Linked DNA regions of Homo sapiens: region 1 is linked to region 2. Evidence: fine-mapped QTL for protein levels in blood plasma. Region 2 holds a variant in brackets. A gene starts in the other region. All regions are shown on their forward strands.

Region 1 (4,344 bases), not on the chromosome of region 2:
ATTCCAGACCCACCTATGAAGCTCCAATGGGCAAATCCTGGGCTTTCGAGGCAGACAGACCTGGTGACATCCCTCCCCTATCCCTCCATGACCCTGGGCAATGCCTCAGCTGCCCTGAGCCTCCATGTCCTTGCCTGAGGATAAAACAGATCTGTTGGGCATCTTCACAGGAAGATGTGCATAAAAGGTTTTGCCTGGGACACCCGAGTGTCAGTGAGTGGGGTTGTTACCAGCTTTTAGGGACCAGAAAACCCAGGTCTGTCTCACCTGGACATGTGTCCGCAGCCTGGGCAGGCAGGTTCTTGATATGCAGGAACAAGACTAGCAGGACAGCGAGCCCCCGGGCCATGGTGGCTCCACTCAGCTCCATGCTCTCTGGCCTTTGACTCTGAAGAGTCCCCCAGCTCTAACAGGGCAGAGGAAACCAGCTCTCGCCTTGTGCCACAGTTTCTCAACTCCCTGGGGGACACCCACTTCCTATGGGCTGCTTAGTTGCACCAACAGGAGGTATGAGGTCATCTCAAAGGATGTTTCCTTCCACTAGGCTCCAGCAAGATGCCCACCCCATTGGGCTCTCTTCCCCCAGCAAAGACACCCTGCTCCCAGTCCAGAGAGCTCCTGAGACTCCTCTGCTGGAAAGCATCGGCTTTGCTTGTGGCTTAAGGAGAACACAGCCCCCACACCCCCTTTCCATTCCCCAGCTGTCCCCAAGCAATACTCGGAAACCTTGACCTTAACCTTGGGGGATAAGGAAGGTTTTGCTGAAGACGCTTCCTTGCCTCATCTGTTCCCAGAAAATTCAGGGTTTGTCCGTCATCAGGCACTTATCATGGATGGAGAGGAAAAAAATGTTGAGCACTTGTTATGTCCCAAATACTATTTCCATCATATCATCTTGCACCAGCCCCATTCGGTGGAGTAAATTATTTGAAAGTTACAGCTGGAGAAATTGAAGTCACTCCACTAGTAAGAGCCAGGCATTGGACTCAATTCTGTCTAACGCCTTGTAGATCACTGGGATTGCTCATTTCACCTGAAGGTGGGGATGCCTCTTGTTCCCCCAAATCCCTGAGGCCATGTTCCTACTCCGCATCTCGTGCTGTGAATCATGCTTAGCCAGGCCACGCTGTGGACACTTTGTGCGGGATTTTTAGAACGTATAGAAATAGTCACTAACGAGAGTCAGATGGTAGCAGGACTAAGGAGCAGGGAGAGGTGTTGTTTTGTGGTTTGCAACTTCTCTGAGCCAGCGTGTGTAGACTGGGTTTCCAAACTCAAGGGCTCCCCAGGTGGGAGAGAAGTGGAGGGGCGGCCCAGGGGTGGGGGATCCAGGAGACACAGGACCTTGTGTCCAGGCTCTCTGGGCACCACAACGACTCTCGACTGTGTGTGTTTGTGTGTGTTGGCTCCAGCCTGTTGAGAGACAACGGCAGGAGGCTTCATTGCCTCAGACACCGCTTAGTGTCCCTGAGCTACTGGCCCAGGCGGGAGAGGTCTGGGTGTCAGTGGTGCGGCCTCCTTTCTTGGAGAGGATCCAATTCAGGAGCAGCACTCACCTGGGATTGGGTCAGAACAGGGAGAAAGCCAGCAGGTCTGTGCCCCTCAATTCCATTTGCCAGCTGCCCCCTGGGTGTGAGGGGACCTCCTCTTCCTTGCAACATCAATAGGTTTATTTCAGGTGAGAAGTCAACACCACCTTCAGATATCAAGTCAATGTTCCCAAGAGTATGAAAGAATGCAAGATTCTGGCAAGTTAAAATATCTTAACATTGGATCAACAAAAGTCATTTGATTCCTGGCAATGGCAGTTTAGGTATTTGGGGGCATCCTATTAAGGACAAACAGACAAAACCTTTAAAAAGAGATTTGCTCGAAGGCACCGTCAAGCTAGCTATGTAGTAAAGGATTACTTTGCCAAGCTCTCAGGAGCCACAGAAATCTTAGAGAAGTGAAACTAGTAGTGGGGACCTCTTTTTGCACAGGGATTTGCCAATCTCCAAAAGAGAGGTGAGAAGTTGGGCAGTGATTTCACCATCTTGCAGAGCTGAAGGTCAAAGACTGGGGCCTACGGCCTGCCAAAGGTATGGGTTTGGGGTTGGCTTTCAGAAGGGCTGCACCCTAGCAATAGGATGAGTGAGCAACAACCAACATTCACAAGGGCTGCAAACTGGTTTTGAGACATCTAAGTGTCCCAGGAAAGGAATCTCAACTCCTGGAATTATTGCTCATGCCCCCAGGCTCCTTGCTGAAAGAAACAAAAATCTTCTCTGAAGGAGAATGACATCATCCCAGGTCATTATTTCTGCAAAGTGTTTTATTTTTTTCAAATGAAATGTTAAAACACAATCAACGATAACCAGGCTCATGGGAATAAAAGACAATGTGTATAAGGACCAACAGAAACAACAGAATATAGAAAGAGGTCTTTGGAAGCTGTGGATACAGAAGTTACAACATAATTAACAGGAAAAATGGAAAACCATCCTCAGAGACTGAGAACAAATAAGGATGCTTGTCATCACCACTGTGGTCAACATTGTATTGCATGTCACTGTCCAGTGCAGTAGGCAAGAGAACAAAACCATAAAAAGATTGGAAAGGCAGACACAAAGTTGTTATTTTCAGAAGACATGATTGAGGATGTAGAAAATTCTAGAGTTTCTACAGATAAACTAGCAGAATAAAAAGTTTAGCAAAAATCAATTGTGCTTCTAAAAACTAGCCTCAAAGAATTTAAAAATGAAATTTAAAAAATTTGCATCAGCAACACCAAATTCAAATAACTGTGAATAAGTCTAACAACATCCATGCTGGTCTTCTGTGTACAAAACTATCAAATAGGAACAGAAAGACCTAAAAGAAGATTAAAATAATTAGAAGGATATTCTATATGTGTGGATTAGAATACCAAATATAGGAAAAACATTCATCTTCTCTTAATTTATCTAAATATCCACTGTATTATCAATTAAACTACCATTTTCTGTGACAATTGACATGGTGAATTTAAAATTTATATAAAGGGCCGGGTGCAGTGGCTCACACCTGTAATCCCATCACTTTAGGAGGCTGAGACAGGTAGATTACTTGAGGTCAGGAATTCAAGACCAGCCTGGCCAACATGGTAAAACCCTGTCTCTACTAAAAATACAAAAATTAGCTAGGCATGATGGTGGGCACCTGTAAACCCAGCTACTTAGGAGGCTGAGACAGGAGAATTGCTTGAACCCAGGAGGCGGAGGTTGCAGTGAGCCAAGATCGAGCCACTGTACTCCAGCCTGGACGACAGAGTGAGATTCCATCTCAAAAAATATATAATATATATATTTAGCAGGGTGTGGTGGTACATGCCTGTAGTCCCAGCTACTCAGGAGGCTGAGGTGGGAGAATTGCTTGAACCCGGGAGGTGGAGGTTGCAGTGAGCCGAGATTGCACCACTGCACTCCAGCCTGGGCAACAGAGTGAAACTCTGTCTAAATAAATAAACAAATAAATAAATAAATAAATAAAATTTATATAAAGGCAAGAGGCTGATAGCCATGCTATTCTTGAGCAAGAAAAAACAAGGGTGAGTTGCTTGAAGTGACACCAGCAGTCATTATCAAGCGATAGTGATGGAGACAGTGTGGGGCTGGCTTAGGCGTACACAGCAAACCTAGGGAAGTGAGTAGGGAGTGCAGAAGCAAATCCAGGCACATACGGACCCTAGATTTATGACATGGTGGCTCTAAAGAGCAATAGTGAAAGAATAAACTTTCAATGAGTGGCACAAACTACTGGAGAGTCATATGGAAAAACAAGAAGTTACACTTGACTTTTATCAGATGAAAAAAAAATCCACATCAGGAGAAGGGTAGACCCAAATGTGAGAGGGAAAACAGCAGTTTTAGATCATATTATAAGATCTCCAATAGCCTTGCAGTTATTTTAAATAAGATGGAAAACCACAAACCATAAAGGACAAGTGGAAAAATTGATCATGAAAATAGTATTATTTCTTTTTCAAAATACACCACCGTGGGAGGGAAAAGACGAGCCAGGGTGAGGGAAGAGAGGTTTCAACACACAGAAGTGACAAAAGGCTTGTATCCAGAATAAAGGGTTTCTGTAAATCAACGATGTTGTAGAAAGTGGGAAAGTGACTTCAACAAACGCTTATAAAAGATAATATTTAATAGATGATGGAAGTATGAAAACATGCTCAACTTCATAACTAATCCAAGAAATGAAAACTTAAATCTCATGAGATGACTGCAGACACTAAAATTTTTCTAAACAGCCAACTCTGCAAGGTTTTGGTGAAGAAGTGTCAGAAACCTTGGTACAAGCACTTCGGAAAACTGG
Region 2 (4,388 bases):
TCCCAACTACTCAGGAGGCTGAGACAGGAGAATCGCTTGAACCTGGGAGGCAGAGGTTGCAGTGAGCCGAGATCAGGCCATTGTACTCCAGCCTTGGCAACAGAGGTGGACTCCGTCTAAAAATTAAAAATTAAAAATAAACAAATAAAATAAAATAAAGGGAATTATACGGCCCCAGATTCTCAGGATGAGGAGGACTCACTCTTCATCTGCCCTTTCCACCCTCCCAGACACACCCCCACACAGGCACAAGCCCTTCTGCAGCCTCTGCTAGAGAGCCACTTGCATACTCCCATAAACAGGGAGTTCACTACCACCCTCCTACAGCCACTTCCAGGGGCTGGACCTGGACAGATATTGCAGCCCATCCCCAGTGGCATGACCTTGACCAAATAACTTACATGATCTGTATCTTAGCCTCTTGATTGGAGAACTGGGGATGGTGACTTGGCCCCCAGAACACATCATATGGATAAAGTGTAGTAACTTTTTTTTTTCTGAGACAGAGTCTTGCTGTGTCACCCAGGCTGGAGTACAGTGGCATGATTTTAGCTCACTGCAACCTCCACCTCCTGGGCCCAGGTGATCCTCCCACCTCAGACTTCCGAGTAGCTGGGACTACCACCACACCAGGCTAATTTTGTGTGTGTGTATTTTTAGTAGAGACAGGGTTTCTCCATGTTGGCCAGGTTGGTCTTGAACTCCTGGCCTCAAGTGATCCACCCGCCTCAGCCTCCCAAAGTGGTGGGATTACAGGTGTGAGCCACCGCGCCCGGCCTAAGTGAATAACTTTTAGAAAGCATGCTTAGTAGTAGGGTTTGAAAAATGTTAGCTCCTCCTGCCCCTTCACACTGCTAGAAAGTGCTTTTTTGTGTTTTTCTCAAACTTGCCCACCCAGGACTTCTGCTATGATTTCCAACCTGCCTCCTGGGACGTTAGGCACGTCTTTGTCTTCCAGGCCGGGATGTCTGTCCTCTACCTCCCAGCTGCGAGAGAGCTCTTAATTGGTCACCTGGGTAGGGGTAAGGAGGAGAGGGAGGGGACAAGCTGCTCCCTGGGCACTCACTGTCTGTTGGATGGTCAGTCCCCATGGGTGTGTTATATGCTCAGTGGGGACAAGGTTGGGGGGGACACCATGATACTGACGATATGCAGAGAGAAACTGGATAGGCATGGAAGAAGCTGCATTTACCACACAAAAGAAGATCCCTTGGCCCCCTATCCCTATCTCCAACCCAGATTTCCCTGGACTCTTCACGGGGGTTACTTCAGGGGGATTCCCTGGTAGCCTCACAGGCTCAGGGGCAGGACTGCTGTTGATAGATATAGAAAGTGCCAGAATAGAGGAAGATGTAAAAAGTGAAGGAATAACTGAAGAAGGAGACCCTTGGAAATACTTCCTCAAATACCAGAACACTAGGCATGGGCCCAGAGCCTCCCAGAGAGTGGGAAAATGAGCTGGAGAGAACTCTGTAATGCCTGCAGGGGGCTGTTGGATGCCCACTGGCCAGAAATGCCTCTGCAGGCAGTAGGCATTGGGTGTGAAGCAGGGCCAGCCAGCCTCAAAGGCCCCTTCCCATGAACTCAAAATTACCTGCTCTGGCACCCCCAGGTCCTCAGATTCTAGAGCTCAGAATCCTAGATCTAAAACTCTGATCCTGAGGTTCTAGAGAGGGGTAAGAAAACTTCAAGTAGCTGGGACTACGGGTGTGTGCCAGCATGCCTGGCTAATTTTTAAAAGAATTTTGTAGAGATGGGGTCTCACTTTGTTGCCTAGGCTGGGCTTAAACACCTGGTTTCTGCCTTGGCCTCCTGAGTGGCTAGGATTATAGGCATGAGCCACCGTAGCCAGCTTGAGCTAACTTTTTTTAAAGGTCAGATAGTGAATATTTTAGACTTCACAGGCCATATGGTCTTTATCACAACTACTCAACTCTTTGTAAACAGATGGGCACCGTTGTGTTCCAACAAAGCTGAATTTACAAAAGCAGACTGGATCTGGCCTTTGGACTATAGTTTGTCTACCCCTGTTCTCAAGTTTGACAATTGTGTGATCCTGATATTTATTCATTGATCTCATGCATTCTCAAGGTTCCAGAGCTTGGAGGTTCCAGGTCCAGATCCAAGTCAGATGGCAATGAAAGCCCTGGTCAGGTGGCTGTGTCAGGTCCCCTAGGGGCGCTCCGGCCACAACCCTGATGGCCCCACCCCTCCCTTCCCTGCAGGGCGATGGCAGCAGACCTGGGCCCCTGGAATGACACCATCAATGGCACCTGGGATGGGGATGAGCTGGGCTACAGGTGCCGCTTCAACGAGGACTTCAAGTACGTGCTGCTGCCTGTGTCCTACGGCGTGGTGTGCGTGC[C/T]TGGGCTGTGTCTGAACGCCGTGGCGCTCTACATCTTCTTGTGCCGCCTCAAGACCTGGAATGCGTCCACCACATATATGTTCCACCTGGCTGTGTCTGATGCACTGTATGCGGCCTCCCTGCCGCTGCTGGTCTATTACTACGCCCGCGGCGACCACTGGCCCTTCAGCACGGTGCTCTGCAAGCTGGTGCGCTTCCTCTTCTACACCAACCTTTACTGCAGCATCCTCTTCCTCACCTGCATCAGCGTGCACCGGTGTCTGGGCGTCTTACGACCTCTGCGCTCCCTGCGCTGGGGCCGGGCCCGCTACGCTCGCCGGGTGGCCGGGGCCGTGTGGGTGTTGGTGCTGGCCTGCCAGGCCCCCGTGCTCTACTTTGTCACCACCAGCGCGCGCGGGGGCCGCGTAACCTGCCACGACACCTCGGCACCCGAGCTCTTCAGCCGCTTCGTGGCCTACAGCTCAGTCATGCTGGGCCTGCTCTTCGCGGTGCCCTTTGCCGTCATCCTTGTCTGTTACGTGCTCATGGCTCGGCGACTGCTAAAGCCAGCCTACGGGACCTCGGGCGGCCTGCCTAGGGCCAAGCGCAAGTCCGTGCGCACCATCGCCGTGGTGCTGGCTGTCTTCGCCCTCTGCTTCCTGCCATTCCACGTCACCCGCACCCTCTACTACTCCTTCCGCTCGCTGGACCTCAGCTGCCACACCCTCAACGCCATCAACATGGCCTACAAGGTTACCCGGCCGCTGGCCAGTGCTAACAGTTGCCTTGACCCCGTGCTCTACTTCCTGGCTGGGCAGAGGCTCGTACGCTTTGCCCGAGATGCCAAGCCACCCACTGGCCCCAGCCCTGCCACCCCGGCTCGCCGCAGGCTGGGCCTGCGCAGATCCGACAGAACTGACATGCAGAGGATAGAAGATGTGTTGGGCAGCAGTGAGGACTCTAGGCGGACAGAGTCCACGCCGGCTGGTAGCGAGAACACTAAGGACATTCGGCTGTAGGAGCAGAACACTTCAGCCTGTGCAGGTTTATATTGGGAAGCTGTAGAGGACCAGGACTTGTGCAGACGCCACAGTCTCCCCAGATATGGACCATCAGTGACTCATGCTGGATGACCCCATGCTCCGTCATTTGACAGGGGCTCAGGATATTCACTCTGTGGTCCAGAGTCAACTGTTCCCATAACCCCTAGTCATCGTTTGTGTGTATAAGTTGGGGGAATTAAGTTTCAAGAAAGGCAAGAGCTCAAGGTCAATGACACCCCTGGCCTGACTCCCATGCAAGTAGCTGGCTGTACTGCCAAGGTACCTAGGTTGGAGTCCAGCCTAATCAAGTCAAATGGAGAAACAGGCCCAGAGAGGAAGGTGGCTTACCAAGATCACATACCAGAGTCTGGAGCTGAGCTACCTGGGGTGGGGGCCAAGTCACAGGTTGGCCAGAAAACCCTGGTAAGTAATGAGGGCTGAGTTTGCACAGTGGTCTGGAATGGACTGGGTGCCACGGTGGACTTAGCTCTGAGGAGTACCCCCAGCCCAAGAGATGAACATCTGGGGACTAATATCATAGACCCATCTGGAGGCTCCCATGGGCTAGGAGCCAGTGTGAGGCTGTAACTTATACTAAAGGTTGTGTTGCCTGCTGAGCTGTGCCCTATTGTGTGGTCGGGGGATGAGGATATGGCAGGGAAGCTTTCACCAGCCACACAAGGGTCCTTTCTCCAATCCGTTCCCTTCTGCCACCTGCCTTCTCACTAGCTGTCTCAGGAGTAGTCTCATATCAGGGATCCTCTCTCCAGGCCCCAGGTCATCCCCCACTGTAAAGCCAGTTGGCTTCTGTGCCTGACTCTGTGCTGAGCACAGAGAAAAGTCAGGTGCAGTCCCAGTCCTTGAGATTTCCCAGTTTAGGTGATGGCCAGTCATGTGCTGGTAAATGTTAAGCCATTTAACTGGAGCTCCGATTTAACTGGGAACCCCTTCTTTGTAGAACTGCCCATTTCCATGGTGCAAAAACTCTTATGGCCAAATTC

Which allele goes with the higher level. Alleles are on the strand shown, and positions count from the first base shown. The strength of an association depends on the size of the effect and on how common the allele is.
With allele T in place of C in region 2, the plasma level of the protein whose gene starts at base 411 in region 1 is higher (weak association).

Evidence for each region. PIP is the chance, under the fine-mapping model, that this variant and not a neighbour inherited with it causes the effect. The UK Biobank Pharma Proteomics Project read protein levels with antibody pairs (Olink). The fine-mapping took linkage between variants from a reference panel, not from the people measured, so its PIPs are less certain.
Region 1: it holds the start of FCN1, and the variant in region 2 is fine-mapped to the plasma level of the FCN1 protein (UK Biobank, PIP above 0.99).

Annotation. Positions count from the first base shown.
Region 1 is chr9:134,917,502-134,921,845 of GRCh38, forward strand. It overlaps FCN1 (ficolin 1), which reads right to left and starts at 411. Exons shown (of 9, transcript NM_002003.5): 1 at 268-411. The coding sequence starts at 370.
Region 2 is chr11:73,231,931-73,236,318 of GRCh38, forward strand. It overlaps P2RY2 (purinergic receptor P2Y2), which reads left to right. Exons shown (of 3, transcript NM_002564.4): 3 at 2,226-4,388. The coding sequence starts at 2,230. The coding sequence ends at 3,363. Among named protein-coding and RNA genes, the nearest start is that of P2RY2, 16 kb to the left of the region's middle. The variant C/T (reference allele first, on the strand shown) is at 2,366.